Regions from separate parts of the Homo sapiens genome. Here all the other regions are reported to be linked to region 3. The links are microRNA targets in miRTarBase. Many come from high-throughput screens and were not tested one by one. Region 3 holds a microRNA gene; each other region holds the end of a gene's coding sequence.

Region 1 (4,100 bases), not on the chromosome of region 3:
CTTTCGCCCCCAGGAACCTCAAGAAGTTCCGCCGCCGGTGGCAGAGCGAGCAGGCGCGGGCCCTGCGCGGTGAGGCCAGGAGCTCCTGGAAGCGGCTGGTGGGCGTGGAGAGCGCCTGCGACGTGGACTGCCGCTTCAAGCTCAGCACTCACAAGATGGTGTTCATCGTGAACTCCGAGGACTACATGTACCGTCGCGGGACCCTCTGCCGGGCCAAGCAGGTGCCAGGGGAGGCCTGGGCTGCCCCGACATGCCCCTCCTCACCCCAAGTCCTGGGGCCCTGGGGGTCCAGCCCTCAGCTGCCCTGACACCCGGCCTCTTCAACAGGTGCAGCCCCTGGTCCTGCTCCGCCACCACCAGCACTTTGAGGAGTGGCACAGCCGCTGGCTGGAGGACAATGTGACGGTGGAGGCGGCTAGCCTGGTGCAGGACTGGCTGATGGGTGAGGAGGACGAGGACATGGTACCCTGCAAGACGCTGTGTGAGACAGTGCACGTGCACGGCCTGCCCGTGACCCGCTACCGCGTGCAGTACAGCCGCCGCCCGGCCTCGCCCTGACCCGCCCTCATGGGCACCGGGCAGGCGCCTCACAGAGCACAGACGTGCCCTCGGCCTTGGTCGTGTCGGGGCCGTTTTCTTGAACGACGTGAGAGGCATCTCCCAGCCCCTCTGCTGCCGGACAGCGCACTCCAGGGCAGGACGCCGCCCCCGTGGCTCCCGGTCTCCTGTGGGCCTGCTGTGTGCCAAACCTGAGCTACCTGCACCCGAGCCCTGGGGCTCAGCCCCACCACAGGGGCGGGTGGACGTGCTGGCCGAGGAACAAGCAATCATGTTTGCGTCCCCGTCCGTCACATGTGCCAAATCCCTGGCAGGCAGATGGCTCCTGCCCCATATTCTTGCCGTGTCTTGGAAAAGTCACAGGTGACAGCCCTCCTGAGGCCCACACTTTGGAGGGGGTCCATGTCCAAGAGACCCTGACAAGGAAGGAGTTGAGCCCTGGGTAGGCTTGCTTGAAAAGTGAGTCCTTCCAGAATATTCTCAGAGCTGCCAGAAACATCATCTGAGGGTTTGGGCATCAGCTCTGCCTGGCTGGTGTTCAGGCCCTCAGTCACTTTGGAAGTGAGAAGAACCCTTCAGCCAAACCTTTGGGATCCCATTTTGAAGTCCAGAGCTGGAGCAGGCGGGCAGTGCCCTGGGAGACCCCGCTCTGGATAAGACACCCAACCCCAACTCCAGCAGCTGGACTCTGGGCCCACAAGGGGAGGGACCCCAGCCAGTATTCCCTCAGAGCCGGCACGACCCTGCTGTGGGGCGGCGGGCCCAGTCGTGTTCCTGCAGTGGGCACCCTAGGCGTATGTGTATACACGCACAGATATTTATTCCTTTCGCTTTTAGTGGTTGTTATTTCTGTAGCAGCCAAGTCCTGCGGCTCCCTGGGGCTGAGATCTCCCTTTGTGGAACTCCGAGAGCCGCCCTGACAGTCCCAGCCGCCACCCAAGGAGCCCCATCCGCCCACCCACCCTGGGACCCACGCGGCCACTCCAGGGATCATTGTTGTCCTTTTGTGAGGGGCTGAGGCGACTGTCCCATGGAGGCATCCAAGGCTTTCTGTGCCAAGAATCCCAAGTGACTGGGGCTGGGGACCACTTCTCCAGGCCTCTCTCCCCGACCATGAGAGCCCCTGGCCCTGGCCCCTGCACACCAGTAGGCCCAGAATAACCGCCACCCTTGCCATCCTGCAACAGCTGGACTCAAGTTTCCAGGAAGTGGAGATGTGTTTCTAGAAGTTTCCTGTGGAACCTGGAGGCTCCTGATGCCTTTGACTCCAGGCTGGGCGATTCCGATGCTGACCCGTCCTCCTGGGCTCCCCACCCCCGCTCCCCAAGTGTCACACAGGCACTTTGTACACATCCTGGTTTTCTAAGAAGGGAACTTGCCATCAAGATTCCTGTACCAGGCCCACGGCCGTCTCGGGCAGAGCCACCTGGGCCCCGGGTGCAGCCGGAGACCCCGCCGAGCCCCTCCTCCCAGTATTCCCATCCCCGCATGCTTCTAGGGAGCGCCTCTTTTCCGTTCTTGAGGAATTTCTGTTCTGGGGCTTGTCCTTCCTTTGCAGCTGTTTTGAATGTAGTTTTCCTTTTCTATTTATTTGCACATTAAAGTTAATAATTGAATATTGACATCAAGCCGTGAGGGTGTGTTGGTCTTCCTGTGAGAGCCTTGCTGACTTCCTGCCACCAGGTCAGTGGGCTGGACCCATGAGAGCAAGGGGTGGCTGGGTGTGCCTACCTGGGACCAGGGGAGTCGAAGCCCCTCCTTGAACCAAGATCATCTCACACCCTGCACCTGCCCCGCCACGACATGGGAGTGTCTTCTAGAATATTCTTTCCCCATTCCATTTGCACATTTAGTGGGAATTAGAAGCGTCTCCTTCGCCCGAGTGTCTCTCATGCAGAACCCAATTTAAAGATCATGGTGTTTGCTCTAAGGTGTTTGTTCTAAGCTTCCCATGCCCAACCTATCCGTCCAGGCCCATGCCTGCCCACCCACCCCACACGACCACCCTCTGTACTCCTTGGGGCCCCACCCACTTCCTGGCTTTCACCATCATTTTCTCCTCATCTCCTGCCCCCTGTCTGCATCCCAAGCTCCACACCTGCTTCCGGGTAGCAGAAGCCCCAGCTCTGCTGTGTCCCCTGGCTGACATACCTGGAGGGTTCCAAGGCAGAAGTGGCCAGCCCCTCCCCCTCAGTATGGGCTCCTCCATCCTCTGTAGGGGAGGGGCCATAGCTTCCTCCCAGTGACCCATGTGCTCCCTGTACACCCAAGCGTCTCTGGCAGTTCTGACCACACCCCCACCGGAGGGTCAGGGCTCCCAGGGAGCGTGGCAAGCCAGACCGGAGGCCGCCCTGTTTCCTTCTGCCTTGATCCCATGGCTGGGGATGCCCAGGGTCCTCTGTGGGCCCCCAGACTGGCTTTCCTTGGTCAGAAGTGCTGCAGGGGCTGGGAAAGGCTGTGCTGGTCCCAGGAGAGCAGACAAAGAGCAGATCTCCGAGGTGGCCCTGCCCTGAGGGGTCCCCTGCCCTCAAGTAGGGCCCATGGCCTTGATGAGGTGATATGACATGAGTTGAGAGAGGTTCCTCACTGGCCCTGAAGATGTCTCCGCTGTGCTGGGGAGGGGACCCTGTGGCAAGGGACAGAGAGTGGCCTCCAAGAGCCAAGGGGGACCTCAGAGCCACCACTACCACCAGGACCCAAATTCTGCCCAAGTCCACTTGGGCCCAGAAAAGGCCCCCGAGCAGCAGATAAGGACACAGCCCAGCTGACACCTTGATCTCAGCCTCATTTGACCCTGAACCAAAGACCCAGCCTCCCAGGCTGGACCCCTGACCCACGGAAACAAAAGGTCATAGAGGCGTGTGGCTGTGAGCCACATTCATTATCCAGAGATAGATACAGCAGCATTAATAAAGCCGCTGCATGTCCAGCACCTCCCCTTCCACCTCCGTCAAGTACGGGGAGGTGGCTGAGGGTCTCAGGAACCCCTACTGAGGGGGGAAATGAAAGAAAAAAGAAAAAATTAAAAAGAGAATTAAGCTTTTCCTGTATTAGGCTGACTTGTCTCAGAGGCAGCAACAGGCACAGCCCAGACCCAGGAAAAGTCTTAATAATACTAAGAAGCCAAGACACAAAGGAATGTGCTCTGGAGCCTCTCCCAGCACTCCCTCAACATAGGGAGAAGAAAAACAAATTTTCCTTTGTTTCATGGTATGAGTTTATAGATTCCTGCTCTCTACACCTAGTGACTTCAAATATTCTGTTTTATCAGCAGTGGAGTGAAGGTCATAAACTGTCTGAGCAGCCTGAGATAGAGCCACCTGGGTGCCATAGTGATGGCCATGGAATAAGCCATGCTAAGCACTAGGGCAAACCTACATAATGGCCATCTGAGTTGCACAGCAACGGTCATGTCTAATCCTGAGTTATGAGCCTGTTATAATTTGATTAACTGTCTTTGTCCTGCCTCTGTATCCCTGCTTTCACGCCACTGTAAGCCTGCTTCAAGCTAACCCACCCCTTTTTAAAAGTGTGTTTAAGTC
Region 2 (3,912 bases), not on the chromosome of region 3:
TGAGGGAACCCCAGGGGAACAAGTCTCCAAGGATGAAGACCAAACGGGCTGGGGAGTGCCTATGTCCACGGTCTTGTTCCTTCTCAGCCCAGGATTATGACATCTTCGCCCCTATTTTACCTGTGGAGAAGCAGAGGCTCAGGGTTACCCAGGAAGTCAGGGCAGGGTTGGTGCTGGTGCTGAAGATTAGACCTCAGACCAACTCTTGTATCCTGCCTTTGCCCCACTCCACTGGTTCTATAAATAGCGACCATGTACCTACTAAATAGCGGGCCCCGCGGTGATTACCCTGTGATCCTTGTGATGCTTGAGTAGCTGACTTAGGGCATCCTCAGCACCGATGGGCTGGTGGTTTCCCCTGACTCGGGCCTCCTTGCAGTACCTCTTTTTACCACCAGGTGGGGCTCCTGTACGAAGAGGGTGTTCGCAAGGCCCAGAGCAGCGACTCCAGCAAGAGGACTTTCTCCGTGTACAGCAGCTCTCGGCAGCAGGGCCGCTACGCCCCCAGCTATACCCCCAGGTCTGGCTGGTCAGGGGAGCCCCAGGGGGAAGGGACAAAAGAGGGCGAGGGTGCAGGGCGGGCTCTGATTCCTTGTCTTCCCCAATCCAGTGCCCCGATGGACACCAACCTCTTGAGCAATATCCAGAAGCTATTCTCTGAACGTATTGATGTGTTCAGCCCTGTGGAGTTCAACAAGGTCCGACTTCCAACGTGACTCAGACTTCCAGGGATCCCGGGGAGGGTTGGCTGGAGCAGCCCCACACCTGCCCAAGGAGCCCCAGGACTCTGTGACCAACTGGGGGTGACCCTGACCCTCCAGTCTCTGTCTCTAGGGCTGTTTTTAGGTAGTACAGAGTGCCCTGCCTCCAAATCCCACAGCCCTTGTCCCAGTCTTGGTGTATGCCCAGCCTGAGTCTGGGTGCTGACCTGGGATTACTGTTTGCCCTTGTCCTTATCCCCACAGTAGTCTTGGGTCCTCCCCAGGGTTTTCTGTTCACCCATGGTCCCTGCCCCGCCTCACTCCAAGCTCAGGGATGCCTCTGATTGCTGGGCCCTACCTGTCCCCTGCCCTCCAGATGACGGCGCTAATATTGTATCCCTCCCTTCTTATCTGGCCCCGGAGACTTTCTGCCTCATCCCAGCTACTTCCATCGTATGTCTCCCGGGCCCCTGCTTGGAACTTGGGTGTCCCCCACACACACCTGCAGTCCCCAAGCTGCATCCCTGTGTCCCTGCCTGCAGGTGTCGGTGCTGACCGGCATCATCAAGATCAGCCTGAAGACGCTGCTGGAGTGTGTGCGGCTGCGCACCTTTGGGCGCTTCGGGCTGCAGCAGGTGCAAGTGGACTGCCACTTTCTGCAGCTCTACCTGTGGCGTTTTGTGGCCGACGAAGAACTCGTGCACTTGCTGCTGGACGAAGTGGTGGCCTCTGCTGCCCTGCGCTGCCCAGACCCTGTGCCCATGGAGCCCAGTGTGGTTGAGGTCATCTGCGAGCGCGGCTAGGCGCAGCCGCTGCCATGCACCGGTCTGTCCCTGCACCCCATGGCACCCAGGATCTGGTCTCGGTGGTCCTTCCCCGCAGGCAGGTGTCAGGACCGGCCTAATAAACATGTGTGGCCTCCTCCTCTCGCTTGCTGGGCGGGCCTTTCCGGGGGCGGGGTTTTGAAGCTGAGGCTTCTGAGGCGCCCGCGTCGGGTCCGCCCCCGAGCGCCGATTGGCTGGTGTGCTGGGCCCAGCATGGGCAGGGGGCGGTTCCACTTAAAAACCCTGGGACGAGAGCGGTCCTTGTCTGCGTTCCGTGTCCAGGCAGGTGCAGGCGCCGCGGGGCCGGATCCTCCGCGCGGCCGAGTCCATCTCCTGGGAAATGGGGCGGACAGTGTTTCCTTGACTGACTATTGTGAGCGCCCTCTCTCTCCGGCGGAGCGGAGACCATGGCCCCCACTCAGGGCCCCCGGGCCCCGCTGGAATTCGGAGGGCCCCTGGGTAATGGGGCAGAGAGATGGGACCTGGGGCAAAGGCTAAGCGAAGGAGAGCTGGAGCGGGTGAACTAAGAGCGGGGGCGAGATCTGAGGATGGAAGGCTTTGGGGGTGTCGGAGGCAGAGGGACCCGGGGGTTTGCAGCGAAGGGTGTCTGGAGAGGGAGAGCTGAGGAGGGGCCGGTTCTGGGGGCTGCAGAACGGGGATTTATGGTGTCGACTGGGAGCAGGAGGAGGGTCTTCGAGGGGCCTGGGGGCGGGGGACTAAGATGGACGCCTGGGAAGGGAACTGGGAGGCAGCGGGGTGCCTGGGGGCCGAGGGCTGAGGACGGGGTGCGGAGGCGCACTCTGGGAATGCCGAGAGGGTCCCGCAGAGACGTCAGGGCGCCCGTGCGGGCCGGCGGGGAGCTGGGGGGCTAGGGGCGGACGCCCGACGTGATGGCCCTTCCCGCAGGCGCCGCGGCTCTGCTACTGCTGCTGCCCGCCACCATGTTCCACCTGCTCCTGGCGGCCCGTTCGGGCCCCGCGCGCCTGCTGGGTCCACCCGCGTCCCTGCCGGGGCTGGAGGTGCTGTGGAGCCCACGGGCGCTGCTGCTGTGGCTCGCCTGGCTCGGCCTGCAGGCGGCGCTCTACCTACTGCCGGCGCGCAAGGTGCGGGCCCCGCTCGCGGACGCTCGGGGGAGGGAAGCGAATGGGCTCGGCGAGGGAAAGGACGCCCCGGGCCTTATCAGAGCCCCCTTGGACCCGCAGGTGGCCGAGGGGCAGGAATTGAAGGACAAGAGTCGCCTGCGCTATCCTATTAACGGTGCCTAGGGGACGGGCCCTCGCGCTGGAGTTAAGCGGCCGGGGGTGGAGCTCCAGGCCTAGCGGGGAGGTCCACGGAGATTGGCCCCCACCCCAGGCTCCTTTGTGTGCCTCTGTTACGCCCAGGACAGACGCCGGGGGCTCTCCCTATGCCCCTCGTCCCCACAGCCTTACCCCATTTACTGCTACTCCGTGCACCACAGCAGTGGCTGGGGTGATCCTCTGAAGGCCAGGGTGGCAGCCTAATGCTTGGGGCAGGGTCTGTGGCCCCCCTGAGTTTTGGGCTCTGCGTGTGTTTGCGGGGTGGGGATGTGGAGGCGCGCAGCCCCAGGGCTCACTGTGCGCTGTGGTTCAGGCTTCCAGGCCCTGGTGCTGACAGCCCTGTTGGTGGGGCTGGGGATGTCAGCGGGGCTGCCTCTGGGGGCGCTCCCGGAAATGCTCCTGCCCTTGGCGTTTGTCGCCACCCTCACCGCTTTCATCTTCAGCCTCTTTCTCTACATGAAGGCGCAGGTAGCCCCAGTTTCGGCCCTGGCACCTGGGGGGAACTCAGGTGAGAGGGGTCCTGGGGTGGAGACGGAGGCAGATTGGGGCGTCTGCCTGTACATTCACTCTCCAATATTCTCCAGGCAATCCGATTTACGACTTTTTTCTGGGACGAGAGCTCAACCCTCGTATCTGTTTCTTCGACTTCAAATATTTCTGTGAACTGCGACCCGGCCTCATCGGCTGGGTATGTTGGGCTTGACTGAGCTGGCCTCAGGCCAGGGGGAGGGTTAGGGTGGGTGAGCAGCGCTTGGGCAGGGCAGGGCCAAAACTGTGCAGATGCGAGTCATTAACCATTCATATTCCACAAACATTTGTTCAATCCACCTGTGCCTAGGTACTGGGAGACAAAAATAAAGTTAGAGGCAAAAAAGCATCTTTGCTGCAGAGAGCCTACATTCTGGTGGGAAAGACAGAAAAAAATAAGTAAAATATATACAGCATGTCAGGGATGACGTTAGGAGAGCACGTGCAATTCTCAACAGCAGTCAAGCACAGAATCTATTTCCAGGGAGTGACCGCATGCTGCTTGATGGTCAAGGCAGTGCAGAACCTGAAATTGATCGCTGGGGTTAGCAACCTACCCGT
Region 3 (4,100 bases):
ATGGTGTCCAGTGTCAGGCAGGAACGCTGTCCCACTGCAGCGAAGGCCTTTCTTGCTGGAGCGGGAGGGTCACTGAGAAGCACTTTTTGCTTTGTTTTTCTGTTTGTCAAAAGCAGCGGCTCCCAGATGCCCGGGTTTAGGGCGTCCCCCATGTCGGGCACCTTGCTTGGCCTGTCTGGGTGCGTGGAGCGGCAGGAGGGGCAGCTCCCTGGAGGGCTGTATGAGTGGGTTTTCCAGACTCCCCGCCTCCCCCACCACTCCATTTGCTTATTCATTCCAGGCCATTATCCCAGCCTCTGCCCAGCCTCAGGCGGGTCGAAATGCGATCCGGCACCATTGATCGCCTGCAGCCCCAGGCTGCCGATGGAGCCCGGCTGGTGCGGCCACAGCTGGGTGGGGAGGAGGACAGGACCCCCCACATACACACTGGAGGAGGGTGGGAGTGGCCTCCTCAGCAAGTCCCAGGCTTGGGGGCTCCATGGGACCAAGAGAGCCCAGTGCTGCTGATGTCCCAAAGCAGGCCCGCCCACCCTCGGAGAGGCTTCCAGAGTCGTGCCTCTGCTCAGAGGCCAAACCTTCCCCACCAAGCCTCTCCTTTCGGGCAGAGGTGTCCTCCCCAGCGCCCAAGCCCAGGCTGCCGGTCCGGTCTGGGTGCCACCGAGGTCCTGGACTTGGCCCTGGGGATGGCCTGGATCTGTTTGCATCTTAAGCCATCATCCCATCTCACTCCACCCTAAAGGGCAGGCAGGATGGGAGGGGTGGTGGCGGTGGCGGCGGCAGCGGTGTCATTTTGGGGGCCCTGCCAAGTCAGCTGCTCCCCCAGCCGGGGCATGTTCGGAAAATGAGCCTGCTCATGGTGGGCCCATACTGCCCAGGAGGCTTGAGGGCAAAGAGTCCCTTCCAGGCTGCAGGGGAGGCATGGGGATGCAGGGTTGGGGGCAGGCAGCCTGCACCCTTGCTAAAGGCTTGAGATGCCTTCAGGACACTTCAACACCCCTTGGGAAAGGACCTGGCCTCATCAGGGGAAGTGGGAACACGGAAGTGTGCTGCCCTTGGGTAAGTGACTGGCGGTCTGGGGAAATGCCACTCCGAGAATCAGATCGCAGCCAGCCCTCAAAGGGTCTGGGTGTGTGCAGGGCTGCTGGGTGTGTGCAGTGGGTTCTGTGGTCAGGAGAGTGCCGTCTGGATGGGAGATATTTGGTTGGTTTTAGCTTGGCCCATTCCTGCCACTGACTGATGGCCCCAGAGGCTGCCTGTTCCCGTTCCTGGGTAGAAGGTCCCAGCGCCATTGTTTGTCCACTGCTTTTAGGGAAGAGGCCTTGGCAAGTGGAATGCTCTTCCTCCCTTGGACTTGATAGGGAGGAGGAATGTTTTGTGTAGCAACTTCCCTCTCTCCCTTTGGGGTGGGCAGCCTGTGAGCTTTAGGCTCTAGGGAATGGCTTGGGAGCATCTCTCTGGATTAAATGGAGCAGTGACGTGGGCTTAGTAAATAGCAAAACCCAGCCCACATTAGCCATCTCTTCCCCAGCGCCCAGGGGCAGGGCTCTCTGGCCTGGCTTGTGCTGGTTCCCAGAGTCCCTGCTGTCAGGTGCTGGGAGTGGAGGTGCCCTCGGGTTCCCTTGGGAGTGGTGACCACAGCTCAGGGCCTGGGTTGGATCCTGGTGGCTGCCCTAGGGATGGTGTCTGCTCCATGCCTGCCCACAGGAACTGCAGGTTACAGATATGAGGGGAAGGGAGGAGAGGAGGGGGCTGAGGAGGGACCGGGACCAGCAGGAAGGGGGACTGTGGGGTTGGGCCTCCACACCAGGGCGACCCTGCAGGAAGGACCTTGTCGCAGTTGCGGGGATGGGCGCCTCTGTCCTGGCCCTGCCTGGACCATCCTAACTGTCTCTGTCTCTTCCTCAGCACAGACCGAGGCCTCCCCAGCTCCTGGGGGGAGCTGCTTGCCTCCCCCCGTTTTTGGCAATGGTAGAACTCACACTGGTGAGGTAACAGGATCCGGTGGTTCTAGACTTGCCAACTATGGGGCGAGGACTCAGCCGGCACCCTGTGCACAGCCAGCGAGGGAAGGGCCGGCCATGCTGGACCTGCTGTTCTCCGCGAGGAAGGAGGGGACTCAGGTCCCGGACTGCTGGGTAGTGGCAGAGGGCAGGTGCAGCTGGAAGTGACACTCTGTGTTTCCCTGCATCCCCCTGAGGTCACAGGTCCTCAAGTCAGCTGGGAAGCCGTTCTCTGGCCCTCAGGGGTGCTGCCAAGAGGAGCTGGGGTCCAGCTCTGCTCCAGGCTGTGGCCCTGGAGTCTGAATCGAGGAGTGAGGGAACTGGGGGATGTTTGGTTTCAGGGCTTTGGCCTGGCTCCTCTGGGTGGTGAACCTTCTCACCCTCTCCCCTGAAAGGCCCTGTTCAGGGTGGGCTCTAGGGCCCCGAGGGAGGGTCTCCTAACCTTCCACAGGTCACTAAGAGTGGTTCCTTCCTGGGCTGCTGGCTGGGAGGATGAGGGCAGGGAGGGCACGCCGTGCATCACGGACATCCAGTGATCCTGCTGAGGCCATGGAGGGCCAGATGGGATAAGCCTCCAGAGATGTGCAGGAGGAGAGTGTACAAGTCACTTGTGTAAATGCGGGACTGGCCCCCTGGGGTGCAGGTGGCCCATGGGCTGGACCTCTATGCCTCCAGCATTCCACTTCATGGATTTGTTCCTCCTGACGCCTCAGAACCTGAGACAAAGCCTCCACTCACCTTCCCAGAGCTTGTGTTTGCAGTGGGAGCTCCCCTGAGCCGGAGCCGGGCCACAGGGTCAGAGTGAGTGGCACTTCCCAGAGAGTTGGGCTTGGTGGGCAGACCTGCTGGGGAAGCCCGGCCCTGGAGTCTCCTGGCCTGCAGATGGCTCAGGAGCCAGAGTGGGAGCTGCGCGTGTGGTTGAGAGGGTGTGGGTGCAGGTGTAAGTGTGTGTGTGAGTGTGGCCTAGCCCGCAGTGAACGGTGCAAATGCAAATGTGAAGGCCTATCCCCTGCTCCCCAGCCCTCGGCCTGCCAGCCTTCCTTCTCTGGTGCTCCCCATCCCCCAAACCCCTTCTATCAGCCCCCATCAGCCCTCCTTTCTCCTCACCTGCCCTCGGAGGGTCATGTGTGGTTCCATGACCCACCAACCCCTGTGGCTGGGCAGGGCGGGGCAGACATCTATCTGGTGGCTCCAGGCTCAACCGGCTCCGTGCAGCTCACTGCGCTCTTTTGGGGAGACACAGGCCGAGTAGGGAAGGTCTGAGCCGGCAGCTCTTGAGACAGAAAGAGAAGGGAACTGTTCTCCCGCAGGCTGCACTATGCATGTTACATGCCGTGAGCACAAGCAGACGCTGCGTAAACAGGCTGGCTCTGCAGGGCATGAAGAAGGCTGCTCTGAGCTAGGGCCACACGGCACCTGCTGGGACACAGGGAGGGGTGGGGAGTCCTGGAAGATGAGTGACCCTCAGGGAGAGGAGGAGACTCCTGTTGGAGAGCACACAGATTTCCTGGGGTCTATGCCGGGCTGGAAGGCTGGCCATCTTAAGGCTGCATTTGTTCCCGAACCTAAGGACCATGGGAGCCACGCAGCCAGAGGGGGTGTGATCAGATGTGTGTTCTGGTTGGATGGCTCTTGTGGCTGTGTGCAGAATGAAAGGAGGAGTTGGACTTGGCCATTAAGTCCACGATGGCAGAGGAAGCAGGTGCCATGGGAGAAGGACCTTGGATACATGCCCAGGAAGGTGAGTAGGGGTCTGCCAGAGACCAGGGCCTGAAACGGCTCTGCTCTCTGTTCTTTTTTTTTTTTTTTTTTGAGACTTGAGTCTTGCTCTGTCGCCCAGGCTGGAGTGCAGTGGCGCCATCTCGGCTCACTGCAAACCCCGCCTCCCGGGTTCACGCCATTGTCCTGCTTCAGCCTCCTGAGTAGCTGGGACTACAGGCGCCCACCACCACGCCTGGCTAATTTTTTGTATTTTTAGTAGAGACGGGGGTTTCACCGTGTTAGCCAGGATGGTCTCGATCTCCTGACCTCGTGATCTGCCCGCCTTGGTCTCCCAAAGTGCTGGGATTACAGGCATGAGCCACTGCGCCCGGCCTGCTC
Region 4 (4,100 bases), not on the chromosome of region 3:
TGACCGTGGGAGGACAACCCATTCACCATATGAGGAACGGAGTAGGACCAAGGGCAGTGGGCAGCAGTCAGAGCGGGGCTCCGACCGCACCCCTGAGCGCAGCCGCAAGGAGAACCACTCCAGTGAAGGGACCAAGGAGTCCAGCAGCAACTCCCTCAGCAACAGCAGACATGGGGCTGAGGAACGGGGCCACCACCACCACCACCACGAGGCTGCAGACTCTTCCCACGGGAAGAAGGCAAGAGACAGCGAGCGCAATCACCGGACCACAGAGGCCGAGCCCAAGCCTCTGGAAGAGCCAAAACACGAGACCAAAAAGCTGAAGAATCTTTCAGAGTACGCTCAGACACTACAGCTGGGTTGGAATGGGCTTCTGGTGTTGAAAAACAGCTGCTTCCCCACGTCTATGCATATCCTAGAGGGGGACCAGGGGGTGATCAGCAGTCTCCTCAAAGACCACACTTCTGGGAGCAAGCTGACCCAGCTGAAGATCGCCCAGCGCCTTCGACTGGACCAGCCCAAGCTTGACGAGGTCACACGACGCATCAAGCAGGGGAGCCCCAACGGCTATGCGGTCCTCTTAGCCACCCAGGCAACCCCCAGTGGGCTTGGCACTGAGGGGATGCCCACAGTAGAGCCCGGTCTGCAGAGGCGGCTTCTCAGGAACCTGGTCTCCTACTTGAAACAGAAGCAGGCCGCAGGGGTGATCAGCTTGCCAGTGGGGGGGTCCAAGGGCAGAGACGGCACAGGCATGCTCTACGCCTTCCCACCCTGCGACTTTTCCCAGCAGTACCTCCAGTCAGCACTAAGGACATTGGGCAAGCTAGAAGAAGAACACATGGTGATAGTCATCGTCAGAGACACTGCCTAGCCCAAGCCTGTCTTTCCCAGCGTCATGTTTGTGTCACAAAAGCAGTTATTTTAAAATCTGATCCCCTCTCTACCCTACCACTTTGGTTTGAATTATCTCCTGGGTTATTTTGGTTCATTTGGGTGGGGATCAAAGTCCTGTCCACCACCAAAACTAAGTTCTTAGATTTTGGGGGATTTTTTTTTTTAAACGATGAGAAGGGAATCCGGTTATGTTGATTTCTAGTGTACAAGATACTGTCTGCTGTGGTTCTGTATTTTTTTATTTTTTGACCAACTGTATGGAAAGTTGTCAGTAAAACCTTTGACAGAGGATGGATTTTTAAACCTGTTCAGAGTCCTGGTTTAATCAATCAAGCTAAAAGAATCGAAGACATCCCTAGTGCATGTACACGAATGCCCTACGTCATCCTTCCAGCACCACTGCTGCATGGGTCACTCTCGGCCTCTCAATTCTTCAGGCTCAGTCTGGACTCTACTTACACTCATTTTTATCTTGGCTGACAGCAGGCAAGCTTCAGTTTGGGCTGTGGACGCTGCCACACAAGCCTGAGTAGAGCCCATGCAAAGGAAGGGATGGGGTGAGCGCAAGGCCTGTGGTCAGCAGCTACTGATGGTTTTTTCTGCCTTAAACCGTGTGTGTGTCCATCATCATCAGTTTGAGCTGTGGCTGTTTGTTTGGGACAGAGTGCCCACTCAGCATGTTTGGCAGCAGGTAGCCTTCAGCAGCTGTGTAGTCTTGTACAAGGAGAAGCTGTGCACTGTTGATGCCAGGGGGTCTCGGGGCCCCTGATCTGTCCAGGCTCCTGGTTCGGCCTACTTTCTAGCCTCACTCAGCCCAGGGATAGCCAGTGTTGGGAGACAGAGTTGCCTCAGGTTCCCAGGGGCCCGGGAGTCCAAATACTGGAATGGAGGGTTGGAGGCAGCCTTCCTTGGATTTACTCATGAACTTTGCCTAGTTGTTTGTGATTTTTGGCTTTCTCTGGTCGTTCAGGGGTGATGGGTAATAGAGCAGGCCCGTGTCCAGTCATACCTAGAGATTTGTGGGGGGATACTGAACCTCTAGACTGAAGTACTTACCGGGGAGCACAGTGGACTAGGGGATGCCCTTGATAATGACGGTTTCCTAGGTGCAAGATCAGAGCATGTGCCTACACCTTGTGCCCTGATGCCGAGGTGGAGACCATTGGGAAATAATTAATAGATATTTTTCTGGGGGGAAATCACAAGTCACTGAGGTGTTTGTTTGTTTGTTAGGCAGTGCTAGAGCTTGAAGCCACTCAAGCCAGTTGGGGAGGAAAGGGATGCGGAGGTACCCTCTAGCTGGGAAGAAGGGTGAGATTCCGTCTTCTTCCCTGTCTCAAGTAAGTAAGGAAGGTACTGCGGACAGTGTGGGCCAGGGAGGAAAACCAGAGCACACAGTTTTGTCACCATGGAACACCCCAAATGCCATTCTTCAGCGTGTCTGGTACCTTGGATGTTCAAACAGGGAACACTGTCAGGGCTGAGGAGAACAGAAGCTCTGGTAAGCGAATGAGCCCCTAGATGATAACCAGGAACTCCAGGTTCTGCTGGCCGTGGCATCCTCTCTCCAGGTCTGCTCCCTTACCGGAGCTAGGATAAGGTAGCATGAGTGACACCTGAGATTAGAGGCTGGGGCTCACTGCAGGCTGTGGAGAGGTCATGCTGGTCCACAGGAACACTTGGCAGTGCTCTCGTAGACCCCTCGGTGATGTGGAATGGACAGGTGCCTCGCAAGAGAGCAAGCACGTTCATAACAAAACAGCAACACAAAGACATGTTAAGCATGTTTATTTATTTGCCTGTTTTTGTTTTTTTACTTGAGCTGTGGTCACAGCTGCCAGGTACCTAAGCAAGTCAGTTGGGTACAGCAGGACACGCCACCATTCCAGGGTAGCTGGTACCGCCAGAAACAGGAGTGGGTCTTGTCCTGTTGCAGGCACACTGCAGTGGTTTTCCTGCAGCTCTCCAACAAACGCCTGAGTCACAGGCCAGAGCTGCCTTGGTATGTTGTTAAGTCCAAAACTTCTTCTCTGGGCTACCTATCTTCCTTCATGAAGCAGGTGCTCAGGACCCGGAAGAATCATCTACCTCCCAGCTTTGTGAGACAGAACCAAGTAAAAGGAAACATGCTAGAAAACGTGCCTAGAGAAGACACTTCAACCTTTGCCTTATCCAACCCCTCTTCAGAGAAAGGTGTCCCATGGCCCCAAAAAGAACTGCCAAGTTTTGGTGAGGAGTAACACCCTGGCATGACATTCCTTCTCTTTCCTGGCCCTCAACCACTTCCTTCCTTTGGCTCTTAAGACCTAGCAGGTTCTGTGAACTCTCAGGCCTTGGCCAGCACTAGTTAGGGGAGGTCAGGTGGTCAATGTCCTGGTGATTTTATGAGACTGCCCCACTGAGAAAACTTACTTACTTCAGGCATCCAGTGCCCCCACCCAGGGTTCAGGCCCTGTCTAAGGTGTTGCTTAAAGACAAAAAGGCAACATGTGCCTCACTGGTGGTGTGCCACTGTTCTCATGCTGCCTCCTAAGTGACTCCGATTTTCAGCCCTGGTAGAATAAGGAAGACAGCTGATGCCTCCTTAGCCCCTTAGCACATGTTCCTAAGGTGTGTTGTCAAGCCAACCTGAATTCTGCCTCCCTGTTATAGTCCCTGTCTCCCCCACAGAGACCTGTGGGTGCTCCCAGCAGAGTTGAGACTGGCTCCGTTGAGTTAATGACTAGAATATAGTGCTTTCACTACTTGATTGTTAACCTGTTTTCTTCTGATGCCATCAGTACCAGCAGTCAGACTATTCCACTGGTTAAGTGTTTACTACCATTAAAGCGAGGCATGAAGCAAAGAGCTGAGTGAGTCCTCTGCTCTCCAGAGGACCAAGAAATACCTGTGTGACACAGACCCACTTCAGTGTGTACAGCAAATTCTATAGTGCTTCTGAGCCCAGCAGGGCTTTACCTGCCCCTGGAGAGTTTTAGCCGTCTTGTGTTTCTTGTTTACTTCACAACCAAATTTGTCCCCTCTTCTCTCTGTTAAGGGAGAGAAGTCACTTTAGCTGGATAATACCTATGTAACAAACTGAGCAGCTGTTATTTGGGCAAAATCAAAGGAAGAAAGAGACTATGGTCTTCTATTTATTGTGGGAAGGAAAACAGGGTGGGGCGGGTGAGTGAAAAGGTGGAAATCCCTGGTACCTTGCCTGGTGG
Region 5 (4,100 bases), not on the chromosome of region 3:
GGGCTACCTCAGGGACTCCTCGCGCTGCCAGATGCTTCGGACCAAAGGGCATTTCTCTGCGCCCTGAAGTCCCGGCTTCTCTAGAGGAAGTCTAAGACGTTCGGGACCCACGAAGATGCCTGCGGAGGGGCAGGAGAAGAGGCGTGCTTTTCTGCCCCATCCCTTCATCTTGCGATTGGGTTGTTTTCTATCGTCCCCTTTGGCACAGGGAGTCCTCTGCGCTCGCTGCTGTGACCGGCCCAGTTAGTTGGGAAACAAGGCTCAGAAAGAAGGCCGCAGTGGTGTTTCTGGGGTAGGGTGCTTGGCCCTCCCTGAAGCCAGGGCTCAGGGCAGCACAGGCCAGGAGCTCTGCCGGGAGAGACCCGGAACCAGAGTCTGGGTCTAGTTGTCCGGTACCTGTGCTCATTCTGAGATTAAAGTGCACGCCCCAGCCTCAGAGAATAAAATTGGAATTCCAGGACATAAGAATCCCCCTCGAGGGGGAACTTGCTCTGTGTTTGTGCGAGCATCAAAACAAAACATAATGATTCCAAAGCAATTCTATGACGTGCAGTTGGTGTGTTTGAGCTACTTCTAAAGCTGGGCTTTCTCTACCAGCTGTCTAGCAATTTACTAAAAGGCACAGCAGCACCTTTTGTACTCTGAGGCAAAATAAGACACCCTGCCATCCACTGGATGACTTTGTTTCTGAAGAGGTTTTTTTTTCTTTCTTCTTTCAGTGGGACTGCCCCGTTACCAGCATCACTCTACTCCAGTGTGTGACAGAAAAGATTTCGTCCTCAACTTCAATGGGATTTCTTCTTTCCATCCCTCAGCTAGCGGGTCGTATTATCACCATCACCACCAGAGCGTCTGTCAGGATATTAAGCCCTGCGTCATGTGAACGGAAAGAGGCCAAGCGATGGCCGCTCTCTCCTCTCCCCTCCTCAGAGGGGGCAGATAGAAACTGGGACGGATTCAAGTCACATGCACGCGGATAGCAGTAAGCCACACACCTGCCACTTAGCCAGAATGCCCAGGATCGCGTTGGTCACTGTTATTTGCCTACTGCTGGAAGAAGGACAACCGCTGGCAAGGTAGCGTTCCCCAATCTGAATACCTGCAGGCTCCCACATGAGGGAGAGGGCAGACTCAGGTGGGAAGATGTGCCATGCGTAAGGCATCAACGTGTATCTGTGGGATCTTCGTTGCCTTCAGTAATCAGGGTGTGAAAAAAGCAGACAAGTTGTGTGTGTGTGTGTGTGTCTAAGAAAACTTGTGTGCTTTTCAAAAAGGCAGTGCTAAGCACAAGATTTCAAGAAAGCCTCTTCTTGTTGCCTAGCTGAGTGGGAGAGTCATTTTCCCCAGACACTACATTTGGATACAGGTGCCAAAGAACATTATTAAGGAATTATTTAGAAACAATGTGTCTAGTTTAAGAAAGTGGTTTTCAGTATTGTGACAATACAACGTTTTTACAAGGTTGTTTTCTACCACCATATTTTAAAGATATTTTTATGACCGTGTATACTCACACTTTGCTTGTATTTTAAAAGGAGGATATATTTGCACTTATGTATACTTTTACAGTTTGCCAAAATATTTTGTTGTAAAATTTTTTTTCAATAAAATGTATATAACAAATAGTTGTTTTAGGGGCTGATTTTCTCTTCGGGCACCCTGAGAGCAATGGATGCCAGTTTCTCCTCCCCGGCAGGCAGCTGTGCAACTCTACCCACACCCCCTCCAGTGGTGTAACTGACATGGTGTGGGGTCTGTGCCTTGAGTAACACAGGCCAGGTTCTGATTGTGAGTCTTCTCAGGAGAAAAACAGTGGAAGAAACGTTTTCTGTTATTTCTTTCTTTACTTCACCCCAGCTTTTTCTGGCAAAACAAAAACCAGAAGGTGAAAGGAACTAGAAAGAAAACCAGGCAAGATACCGACCAGGGTTTGATTTTGAGGAAACCAATTTTGTGCCCCTTCTGTTTTCTTTCCTGTGCCCGGGGAGTGTTCTGCCCTTTGCCCTCTCTCCCTCCCGACTGGCATGGGTTGACAGATGTGGGGCACAGTGGTAAGCCCCCCTCCAGGGTTGGATGCCCAAAGAACAGCACCCTGCTTCTTCCCTTTGCACGTTGCAATTTTGTTATGGGTGGCGGTCACATGCTGTCAGAAATGGGGTTCAGATCTGAAGAATGCAGGGGGATCCCTGAGCTGCAGGGGGCAGGCTCCCAGCAGGGGGTTTAACTTCCTTGGGGAGTTTAATACAGAAGCTGGACTCCCCACACGTTGCTCTGTGGCTGCGGCCTGTCCCACCCTCCAATTCAGAGCCTGGCTGGCCCTGCTCAGCATCGGCACATAGCAAGCCGGTTCAGCCCTTCCTTCCTCCCGGCCTCCTCTCCCCACTCCTCCCTTTTAACCAGGGATTTAACAAGGGAACCCCTCAGCCCCTTTTTCTGTTCCTGCTAGATTTCCCAGTCACCAGTGTTACAGGCAGAGCTGGTGACGCTCCCGATGGAAGAGCAAAATGGGCCAACTAGGCAGGAGGACTGACCTTCTGTCCCAGCAGCCCTTCACCATCACGAGCCATGTTGGGGACAATGGGTCTGAGAGAAGCAGAGAAATTATCTGCTCCAATCATGCTGTGCATTTTCCTCTCCAATTCAGGGCTGGAGTTTTGTTTTTGTTTTTTGCTTTTTCTTTCTTGATTGGAAAACTCACCTTTGTTTCTTATCCCTTAAAAGGTCTTTCTCCCAGTCAGTCACCAGACTCTTGGTATTCGTAGGGAACTGTTTCACACCCCAGGGTTTTTGTATTCTAAGTGAATTTCACTGCAAAGAGCGTCTCCTGAGTGAAACATCTTGTTTCCGAAAGTCTTAACCATCTTTCTAATCTTTAGGTTTCCTTCCTATATCTTCTAAAATTAAGAAGTGATTTAAACATTTTTTGTCTCTCCATTATCATATTTGCAGTTAAATAAGGCCTTTTTATTTTCTTTTATAGTGAGCTACTCGGGGGCCTGCTATAAATTATGAAGTCAGTTTCAGAGTTTGCTCCGACCACAGTGCTGTGTTTACATTCCTTCCGAGGCAGCCGGCATGGTCGTAATTTATATCCTAAACACTTGAACGTAACTTGTTTATACAGAGAATGACAGGACCTCAAAGACGAAAACTGCGTCTGCCTGCCTGGCCGCATTGGGAGGCCCAGCGCGCCCCCTGGTGGCGCGAGGAGATCCGCCCAAGGCGACTCAATGATTCCTTCAAGCTGCGCAAGAACTTGACAAAATGACCCGTTTTGTGGTGCCTTCCAATAGAGACATTTTTAAGTATCTCACTTTCATAAGTTATGGTTTCCAGTTTTAGGAAATACTTTGCTTTCTTCTTTCTTCTTCTTCCTTTTTTTTTTTTTTTTTGAGACAGGGTCGTGGTCTGTTGCCCAGGCTGGAGTGCAATGGCACGATCTCAGCTCACTGCAGCCTCCACCGCCTGGACTCAAGTGATCCTCCCGCCTCAGCCTCCTGAGTAGCTGGGACCACAGGCACGCACCACCATGCCTGGCTAATTTTTTAATTTTTGTAGAGACGGGGTCTTGCCTCGTTGCCCAGGCGTGGGCTTTTTTCTATTTTACTCTTTTCGCCTACTGTCTCATCCTGAAACCAGATCACAATTCAGTAAGAACAGGCCTGACCATGCTCAGCAGATGCTAAAGCCCTGACTTGCTACGTATATTCTTCATTTCTACATTTCTCCCCAAATAAGGCTGTTGTTTTGTTTCCTTTTGAGTCAAAATTGTTTCTCTCCTAACTGTCCCTCAAAGACACACACGTACACATAGACTCATTTATATTCACCCTTTTTTTTTTTTTTTTGGAGAAACATGCAGTGCTTGGCTTTAAAAGTTGCTCAAATGTTAGTGATTAAATTGAAAAAAAGTGCTACACCTTTATAAGTGAAAATAAATGAACTAACTCAACTAGGGATAAATACCTCAACTGTTTTTTCGTCAAATGGATTTTGAACTTAGGTTTTCTGCTCATTGGCGGAATAAAGTGGTATATTAAAAGATTTTATTGTTTTCTATAATAATTATTGTTTTTTGTTGGTTTCATTGGAGCTGTATA
Region 6 (3,930 bases), not on the chromosome of region 3:
AAAGGCAACCAGGAGCTGGCAGCCTGGGTATATTAAGCTTTCATTATTGTAAATTTGTATTTTAAAAACCCAATATCTTTTCTGTAAATATGCAAGGGTTTCTCTGACAATTTCTCTTTTTTAAAGCCACCTCTCAATGAAACATTTTAAATAAAACTCCTATATCTAAAATGAAGTCTTGGCATTTGGGAGTTTAAAATCTCCCCAAATTCAGAGGGGGATAAAAAAGGTGCATAATTACACCTCATCTGAGTGTAAGTCAAAAAGTAATCAAAAATGTTTAAAACCAAAAAGTAACATCTTAGAGTGGCATTTTAAACAAAAAAAGTACTTACTGGCATTTTCTAAATTTTCATGCAATTTGTTATTCATTAAATCAGAAGAAAATGTGCACTACCATTTTTTGATATGGCAGATAGCATTCAAAATTGGCATTAACACAATAGGCCACCACTATGTGAAAAACCAAATGCTTTAATGAGGCTATCAAGAACAAGTCGATTATTTCATTGGATACATTAATATCGATCCATAATATACAGTGCTATGGACCATACAGAAATTATTGCTGCATCCAACAGCAGGTGACTATTATTAACATTACAGTACCAAGCATCCGCAAGAGACAGTCATTTGTCATTTTTTATCAAGAAATAGGGCTGTTTTATACTGTTATTGACATCAACTTTTTCCCAGTGCATTTTTCAAAAATATTAATAAGTTCATTCCTTTGTGCTTTTAACTTCCTATGTATTGTATTTGTTCTTATTGCTTTATTGTTTAAAAACAACCAGAAAGAATTTTGTCATCCTATGTATGACCAGGTTGCTTGTATGCTTTTTGGCAAAGTCAGAAGGTTTGGTATTTCCATTGCCCTACTCAGAGGCAGATGGACAATTTTGGCATTTTGGTCACTCCATATAGAGGCCCAACCCCGAGTTACAATTCTGCACCCGGGAATCGGGGGAGTGGTGTGGATCATTTTCTTGTTACAAACAACAAGCCCAAACCACTGCCTCTTGGCTTAGCTAGCCCCTGAAATGAATCCACACTCTATTTGGCAAAAAAGAAATAAATAAAACCACCCCCAAGATTGCAGCATTCTCCTGGGCTTGCTCACCTGCCACCTGCAGAAATTGTCTCTTAAGGAGAAGGGGAGGGGGAGGCAGGCAATGGCAAGGTTAGGAGTTGTGACAGTCAGGGCAGTGGTACAAGATGCCATACTTTCTTTCAACAAAGCTTTCTATATGGTTGCTTAACCATGGTCCTGTTCCCGTGGCCGTAGGTTAGTCAACCTTGCTTTATTTTTAAAAACCCTCAAAATCAGCTAAGGAAAACTAACATCATAGCATCACGATCTTCAACTTTTGCATCCAGCGCCCTCCCCCCCATATAAATATGAAGAGAAAAATAGACAATGCTATGATTGTATCAATGAACACTATGGTACAATTAGCTGTTCATGCAGATTTGCGTCACTATTCTAGGAAAAGAGCTATACAGTTAAGGGGGTTGAAAGAATGGGAACTAATTTTCCCTACCCCCTTAAGAAATAAAGCTATAAAACTGATAGCATCACCAATGTTTCCAAGGATTCTCATTGCCCAGCGTGCATGGGAACTATGCAGTTGATTATTTTCACCTAAACCGTCCATTCACACATCTGACGATCACTCCTCTCTGAACCCTCCATCACCCATCACCAATTCACATTTGACATTTAAACACTTTTTAAAAACCCTCCTGAATAAGGTTTCCTGATGAAAGAAGTTGGCACTCTGTCACTAAAATATATTTAATATTAAAAATATCTGAAGGAAAATTGGAAGCTCTTATATTGTCTACATAGGCACCATGCTACATGTTCGTCTTGACTATAGATACCATCATGAAACTTTCCCCTACATTACAGTTCAGTCAGTGCTAGTCCAAAAAAGACTACTGCTATATTTAAGGCACTTCATTCTGAATGGATATGCTTTATGCCACTTGCTATTCAGTTGTAGGCTGCTACTGAGAAATTCCATTCAACAGCCTGGCTCATAACACTATATGGCATCTGTATAAAACATCTAGGCTTGATACATGTAACACTACTGTTATTGCATAGGACTACACAAGTAGATAATGCACTGAAACTAACTTTATAACATTGCTTCTTGTTAAAACATTGTTATCAAGTAACAGTAACTTCCCAATACAGTATTTCTTTCTTAAAAATAAATTCAACAAGTTTGCTGAAATAAACCCCAATTTAAATGACCATAATGGGCGTATTAATGCTATGGTTATCAATCTCCAAGAATATTGCTATTTTCATGTCCTAAAAATAAATATGTAAGTTTATTCTTTCTAGAAAGCCTGGTTTTAACCTATTAATACTACACCTTAAATGTGTCCAAAAACAGTTCTGAGTGAGACTGTAATTTACAAAATATTCGCAAAGCTGTCTTTTAAATGCAAGACCTTGCATAAAAGTTTTCTTTCATGGGTGTACAAAGAATGCGGAAAACCACCAGTGAGTTGTAAAAATATGGAAAACTTGCCATTTTAAGATGCATATTCTTACAAATTAATACAAATATATTGAAAAGAACAATGATAATAAAGAATCTGTACAAATCAAATGAACAGTAAAACATAATTTAAAAATAAAAATAGTAAAGCCAATTAGAAATATGCCCAGTTCGGTTTTCTTATCAAAAGCAAAAATAAAATAAAAAAAAAGTAAAACATACTTTCAGTGCTCCTCAATATTTTACTTTGAGAGGACATTAATTTCCATTTCAAAATAAAATATCTTATGAAAAACTGGATCACACTCATTGATGAAGAAAACTGTAACAGCACAGAATAAAAGAGAGCAAGATTAGACTTTATATTTCAGAGCCTTGGTCTAACTCCCTTCAGTTTCGGTTGGTATCAGTTATGTTTTCTAACCAGACGATCCTCATGAAAAGGCCGCATTTTTTTTTTCTTTTACAGAATACATATTTCTTTAAATAGTTTGCAGTATAAAGACTAAACAAAGCTAGAGGGGTACTGTATCTTTAAGGCAGTACCAATGAATCAATACATTTATAAAATGGAAAAGGGTTAGTATGGATTTCTTTTCCTCTTTCTTTCTTTTTTTTTTTCTTTTTGGTTGCTTTACATTCTTTCAATTAAACTTTACATTTGATTTCCAAGGAAGTCACAGGCATAAAAATCTCAAATCAAGTTTCCCCTGAATAAAAATGGACAGACATTTCTCTGACGCAAAATCCTCTTGCTCAGAAAGCTAAAGTCTGTGGTGAATTCAGTTCACAGATACTGCACACTTATTTGTACAATACTTTGGAGGCATTTGTAGTTGTAAAATAGAATATACAAGTCTGTTTCACAAAATTCTAAAAATAAAATATATCCTGGGCTATTGATAAAGCATGAAAAAAAATTTCATATTAAAGGAAAATTATCAAGAAAACCCCTTCAGGTAAGTTATTAAATCTACGAATCAAGAAAGGAAGCAGTTTGTGCGAATGCAGTGCAGGGAGGATTCGCTAACAAGTGTGCTCCGTCTCTTCCATGCTCATACTGCTCCTCCGGCTGCTTGTTTTGGAAGCTCCGGGGGACACTGAGGAAAGGAGTGGATCAGTGACACCGACGGGAGAAAGGGTGTCGTCCATCAGGATGTCTTCCAGTTTGGATCCCATTTTTGTGGGGACACTATAGGCTTGGTTGGCCTCAGTCCCAGTTCCGAGGTTGTTGTTGAAGGTGATGGTGCCATCCGTGAGATCGAGAGTTGTTGTACAGGTTAGGTCTGCATGATGCTGAAGGAGGTCTTGGCTGCAGTTCTCAAGAACGGGTTCTTGCTTGATGATCCGATTCACCAAATCTGGAGAGCAGAGACCCGTGGATGGAATAAGGGAAAGTCCATGAGCTCGAGCC
Region 7 (4,100 bases), not on the chromosome of region 3:
AGTTAGTGGTTAGGCATTTGTTATTTCCCTCCCTCTGTCCCTCCTTCCTTCCTTCCTCCCTTCCTCCCTTCCTTCATTCTCTCTCTTTCTTTTTTTCTTTCATTTAATATGGCTGTTGATCTCTAATCCATGATTTTATATTACACAAAATCTTTTATCATCAATCTTCCTCCCTCATTTATTCAAGACAATGTTTTCTCTATGCTGTAATCAATCTTTAGTGTGTATATATATATATATATATTTAGATTCTGAAGAATCACGTATATTCTTTTATGTTTGTTCAGTGTTTTCATCTCCGTTCTTGTCTAGTGCTTACTTTGGTTTCTATTTGTATAACCATATTTAATTGCAGCATTAGTTAGCTGGGTTATAATAGTATAACAAGAGTCAGAAAGACCCGGGCTGAAAATCAGCTCTGAAAACCACTGTCTGTGTCTGTGTATATCTAAAACCAGGTGGTAAGTGTACCTATTTCAATGTTTATTCTATGTATTGAAAGAAATAACATAGTATAGTGCTCATCCCAAACCATTTGTGCAGTAAAAAAGAAAAAAAAAAGTTAGAATATAAATTCTACAAGTGCTGAGATATTCACTAATGTTCACAAGCACTTACTACAGTCCTTGGCACCCAGGAAACACTCAATAAATACCTGTCAGTGATTGCTGTTCTTAGGCTACTATAGCCCTCCTCTCAATGCTTTGAAGATGAAAGATAAAAGAAATATCTATAAAGTACATAATAAAAGGTCTGACGTAGAGTATTTGATTTTGCTAGAAATGTATTTGCAGGAGCTTGTCATCCGGTCAATGATTGGTTTAGATAGCGTTCTTGAGAAAACATCTTCAGAAAGGCTAACAGTCTTCTGTTTCATCCTTCTCAGGCATCCTATTTTCATTGGTGGTGATGCTGTATGTCATCTGGGTCCAGGCAGTGGCTGACATGGAAAGCTACCGAAACATGAAAATGAAGGACTGCCTGGATTTCACCCCTTCTGTTCTGTATGGCTGGTCATTTTTCCTGGCCCCAGCTGGGATATTTTTTTCTTTGCTAGCTGGATTACTATTTCTGGTTGTTGGATGGCATATTCAGATACATCACTAAATCAACTGTTGCCACAAGTATTTTCTTGAGAGATTTTAAAACAAGGAATACTTTTTTTCCATTTTGTTTCATTGATCCCAGCATAAAGTTAGTAGATATAACTTTTTAGTTGCTATTCAAATTAATCATTTTACTAAAATTTTCTTCAGTAAGAAGGTCCTAGAATCTCTCCAGACACCAGCAAGCCTCTATCTTGTCTAAGTGCTGTCAAGGACCTAGTTCTTTAGGGAATAGGTAAACAGGTCTCCCTTTCATTGAACATGTTAGAGTTCATGCAGGTCGCAAAGGCCTGATAATAGCTTAATACCATGACATGGGGAAAATCTCGATAGATTTGGCTTAAAGTCTCCTTGGCATTCACTTCTGCTAATTAAAAAAAATCCTTGAAGAATAATTAAGAATGGGCAAGGTTGTCAGAGAATTTATTTTGTTTCTTGCCCACACAGATAATATCCACATACACATTCACTGGCTCTTGTGAGCAAATGAATTTAAAAATAGACAGCAGTTGTTCTAATTAGTGGGAGCCATGTACTCACCAGTTAAAATGGGCCACAACAAACAAGACTGAGAGCATGTACTTATCTTGCTTTTTCACCAACAGTGGTTTGGTTACCTAGTTTTATTCACTTAATTGTGCATGCTTACATAAACTTTAAACTACATTTAAAACTAGCAAATCTGCATACCAAATTATGTATAACGTAGATTGAATTTTTATGAACTTAAAGTGAGTTAATTGTATAATGTAATATTGTTTAAAATATGTAAAAACCAAGCATTTCCGCTTGGTCCATAATTCTATTTGATATTTTAAAATTCTCATTTAAAAATTATATTGCTATCATTCAGCATGTGAAAATTTATTGATAAAATGTGATTTTAATATTTTTTAGATATAAACTTTCAACGTACTTCCATATGAGGATTATAATAGCCCTGCTTTATTAAAGACCATAAAATATTAACTTTCCCCAAGATGTTATGGGTTCCAGTTCTTCTGATCATTTGATTCCTTTAATTACTGTCCCTCAATTTCTTCATCTTTACAATAGATATATTAACATTTACAGATCGACTATTTCCTTTAACCTCCTAGAAGAAAGTTTTTGTGGGGAAAGATGATTCTGTATTATTCAGTAGCATAGACATTTTGCATATCAAAGATGTTCATTTGGCACTAATGTTGATTGAAATCAAATCCATCTGAGATGCCTAGCTCGTATTTGCATTCTGGAAGCCTCCATCGCAGGGGAGCTCGGCAGGGTATGTGAGCTTTGTTGGAGGTGCGGTGTTTCATTCTGCAGCTGTTGTGAGGACAGAGAGGCATGGCCCACAGGCAAAAAAAGTCACCACCCAGAAGATGCTCTGGGATAGAGGAACTGCTCCTTTTCATCAGCTCTTCCAATGCCGTGGGAGAGGTGATCCCAGTCTTCTCTGTACATCTTGTGCTTTTCCATTAAGACTTGTTCCAGTGGGAAGGAGCTTTGGAAAAATTGCAAAGGTCTGAATCTTCAGGGCATTTTCATGACAGGACTTGCCAATAATAATAATAATAATAATAATAATAATAATAATAAAGCTCCAGAGGCCTAACTGGTTTCTCAAGTCATTTCAGTGATATCATTGAAACGTTTTTGTGGTACTTCCCTTTGTCTTTCACTGTTTCATTTTTATATTGCTTCATTTACTTCTTTGCTTTTGGCTTTGTTATTAGAAAAAATAATTATGAGGTCTGTTGTGCATGTTGACTGTGATATTAAGTTATGGCATGCCATTAAGTTTTCCAGACGATGTTGGATGTATCTGATTAGTTCATGTCATCTGTAAATACAATTCTTTTTTGTAGTACTTTGGAATGGAGCCTTTTTCTGGTGTACTGTATGCCATTTAAGTTTCACATACAAGCTGCTTTCGGCAAAGGCTTGAATATTTATAAATTTCAGATGGTTATCCTCACTTTATAGTACACTTAAGTGGCTACCATATATTTTTTATATGACAATTGGCTGAATAGCTGATGTGTATGACACTTTTACACAGATTTGCACTTTGGAACTATTTTATAGTTGTAATGCATCAATCAAATACATTTCAAGCACATTTCTTGATCAATTTACCAGCAACCCTCTGAAGGAATGAAGGAGAGTTGTGATTGCTATGTCAATGAGTGAAATATACTTAAAAATGGCAGAGTTATATAGTACATTATTGTAGCAACCTTATATCTGATTTGAGATACTGTGTTGCCAAATGTCCATGTTATGTTTATTTCTCTATTGGTTGTATTTATTAATTTTTAGAAGCCTTTAAACTGTGTTAGAATCTTTTTGAAAAATGTTGATTTTGCATCATAAAGTTTCAATTTATCAAGGATATCTTTTCAGTTACACTTTTAGAAAGAGTGAATAAAAAGGGCAGTGAGTTATGCTCTTGGACTTGGTGAAAGCTATCATCTCTCCATATTGTATTTGTTCAGCTGGTTTAATTCACTCAGGTGGATGATTGCACATACATTGGAATTGGCTGGAGAGACTACACAGAGAAGTTTAATGATCGTGTACAATTTGAGGGTTGATGGTAGGGCTTTCTAAAAAAAGTAATATCAAGTGTGTTGTTAGTATTCATTTAGTCATTTTTATTACTAATCTATAAATATATTTATTAAATTTGAAGATTAAATGGAATTATAAAGGAATATATTGGAGGAAGTGTCAGTGTTGGTAATTATTCATCTATTTATCTGTCTATCATCAATATATATGGGTGCATGTCTGTGTATATTTGTGTGTATGTAAGTGTGCATGTGTATTATATGTTTGGGTAGAAAGAGATACATTGAATGGTATAAATCAATATATTTGAGCTAAGCAAGTTAAAAAAAAATCAGTTATCTTTGGGAACAGCAATCTATTATTGTTGTTTCCCTGAGTGCCACTTTAACTGTTTCACTCAATGGATGGTGGTTTATTCAGTTCAACACGTAATTTGAT

What was found. Region 3 holds the annotated microRNA hsa-miR-182-5p (UUUGGCAAUGGUAGAACUCACACU, at 1,959-1,982, shown strand). A microRNA usually pairs through its seed, bases 2 to 8, with sites in the 3' UTR of a target mRNA and lowers its output. Matches are read on the target gene's strand: a 7mer-m8 pairs with bases 2 to 8, a 7mer-A1 pairs with bases 2 to 7 and ends in A, and an 8mer does both.
Region 1: miRTarBase lists SIN3B as a target of hsa-miR-182-5p. Seed matches in the 3' UTR shown: 7mer-A1 at 742-748 and 7mer-A1 at 856-862.
Region 2: miRTarBase lists VPS51 as a target of hsa-miR-182-5p. The part of its 3' UTR that is shown has no 7-base or 8-base seed match.
Region 4: the mRNA of RBM15B is a reported target of hsa-miR-182-5p. The part of its 3' UTR that is shown has no 7-base or 8-base seed match.
Region 5: the mRNA of FOXF2 is a reported target of hsa-miR-182-5p. Seed matches in the 3' UTR shown: 7mer-A1 at 1,368-1,374 and 8mer at 1,571-1,578.
Region 6: miRTarBase lists MITF as a target of hsa-miR-182-5p. Seed matches in the 3' UTR shown: 8mer at 1,057-1,064, 7mer-A1 at 899-905 and 8mer at 840-847.
Region 7: miRTarBase lists TMEM182 as a target of hsa-miR-182-5p. Seed matches in the 3' UTR shown: 7mer-m8 at 2,645-2,651 and 8mer at 3,354-3,361.

What each region holds. Positions count from the first base shown.
Region 1 is chr19:16,878,170-16,882,269 of GRCh38, forward strand. It overlaps SIN3B (SIN3 transcription regulator family member B), which reads left to right. Exons shown (of 19, transcript NM_001297595.2): 18 at 14-221; 19 at 328-2,180. The coding sequence ends at 558. Among named protein-coding and RNA genes, the nearest start is that of F2RL3, 8.8 kb to the right of the region's middle.
Region 2 is chr11:65,110,084-65,113,995 of GRCh38, forward strand. It overlaps VPS51 (VPS51 subunit of GARP complex), which reads left to right. Exons shown (of 10, transcript NM_013265.4): 8 at 399-520; 9 at 611-698; 10 at 1,244-1,779. The coding sequence ends at 1,504. TM7SF2 (transmembrane 7 superfamily member 2) reads left to right here and starts at 1,789. Exons shown (of 10, transcript NM_003273.6): 1 at 1,789-1,984; 2 at 2,432-2,628; 3 at 2,728-2,782; 4 at 3,137-3,331; 5 at 3,408-3,511. The coding sequence starts at 1,933. RefSeq lists enhancers at 44-971, 972-1,897, 1,594-1,888, 1,811-1,920, 1,991-2,040 and silencers at 730-905, 2,171-2,600.
Region 3 is chr7:129,768,329-129,772,428 of GRCh38, reverse strand. MIR182 (microRNA 182) reads left to right here and starts at 1,937; the gene lies at 1,937-2,046. It overlaps LOC105375501 (a long non-coding RNA gene), which reads left to right and starts at 3,224. Exons shown (of 3, transcript XR_927963.4): 1 at 3,224-3,741. RefSeq lists an enhancer at 923-1,786.
Region 4 is chr3:51,393,202-51,397,301 of GRCh38, forward strand. RBM15B (RNA binding motif protein 15B) reads left to right here. Exons shown (of 1, transcript NM_013286.5): 1 at 1-4,100. The coding sequence ends at 871. It also overlaps a transcript of DCAF1 not described here. Among named protein-coding and RNA genes, the nearest start is that of RBM15B, 4.0 kb to the left of the region's middle. RefSeq lists enhancers at 1-98, 99-606.
Region 5 is chr6:1,393,977-1,398,076 of GRCh38, forward strand. It overlaps FOXF2 (forkhead box F2), which reads left to right. Exons shown (of 2, transcript NM_001452.2): 2 at 720-1,627. The coding sequence ends at 883. Among named protein-coding and RNA genes, the nearest start is that of MIR6720, 5.6 kb to the left of the region's middle.
Region 6 is chr3:69,964,861-69,968,790 of GRCh38, reverse strand. It overlaps MITF (melanocyte inducing transcription factor), which reads right to left. Exons shown (of 10, transcript NM_001354604.2): 10 at 459-3,930. The coding sequence ends at 3,543. Among named protein-coding and RNA genes, the nearest start is that of SAMMSON, 33 kb to the left of the region's middle.
Region 7 is chr2:102,813,862-102,817,961 of GRCh38, forward strand. It overlaps TMEM182 (transmembrane protein 182), which reads left to right. Exons shown (of 5, transcript NM_144632.5): 5 at 887-3,818. The coding sequence ends at 1,107. Among named protein-coding and RNA genes, the nearest start is that of TMEM182, 54 kb to the left of the region's middle.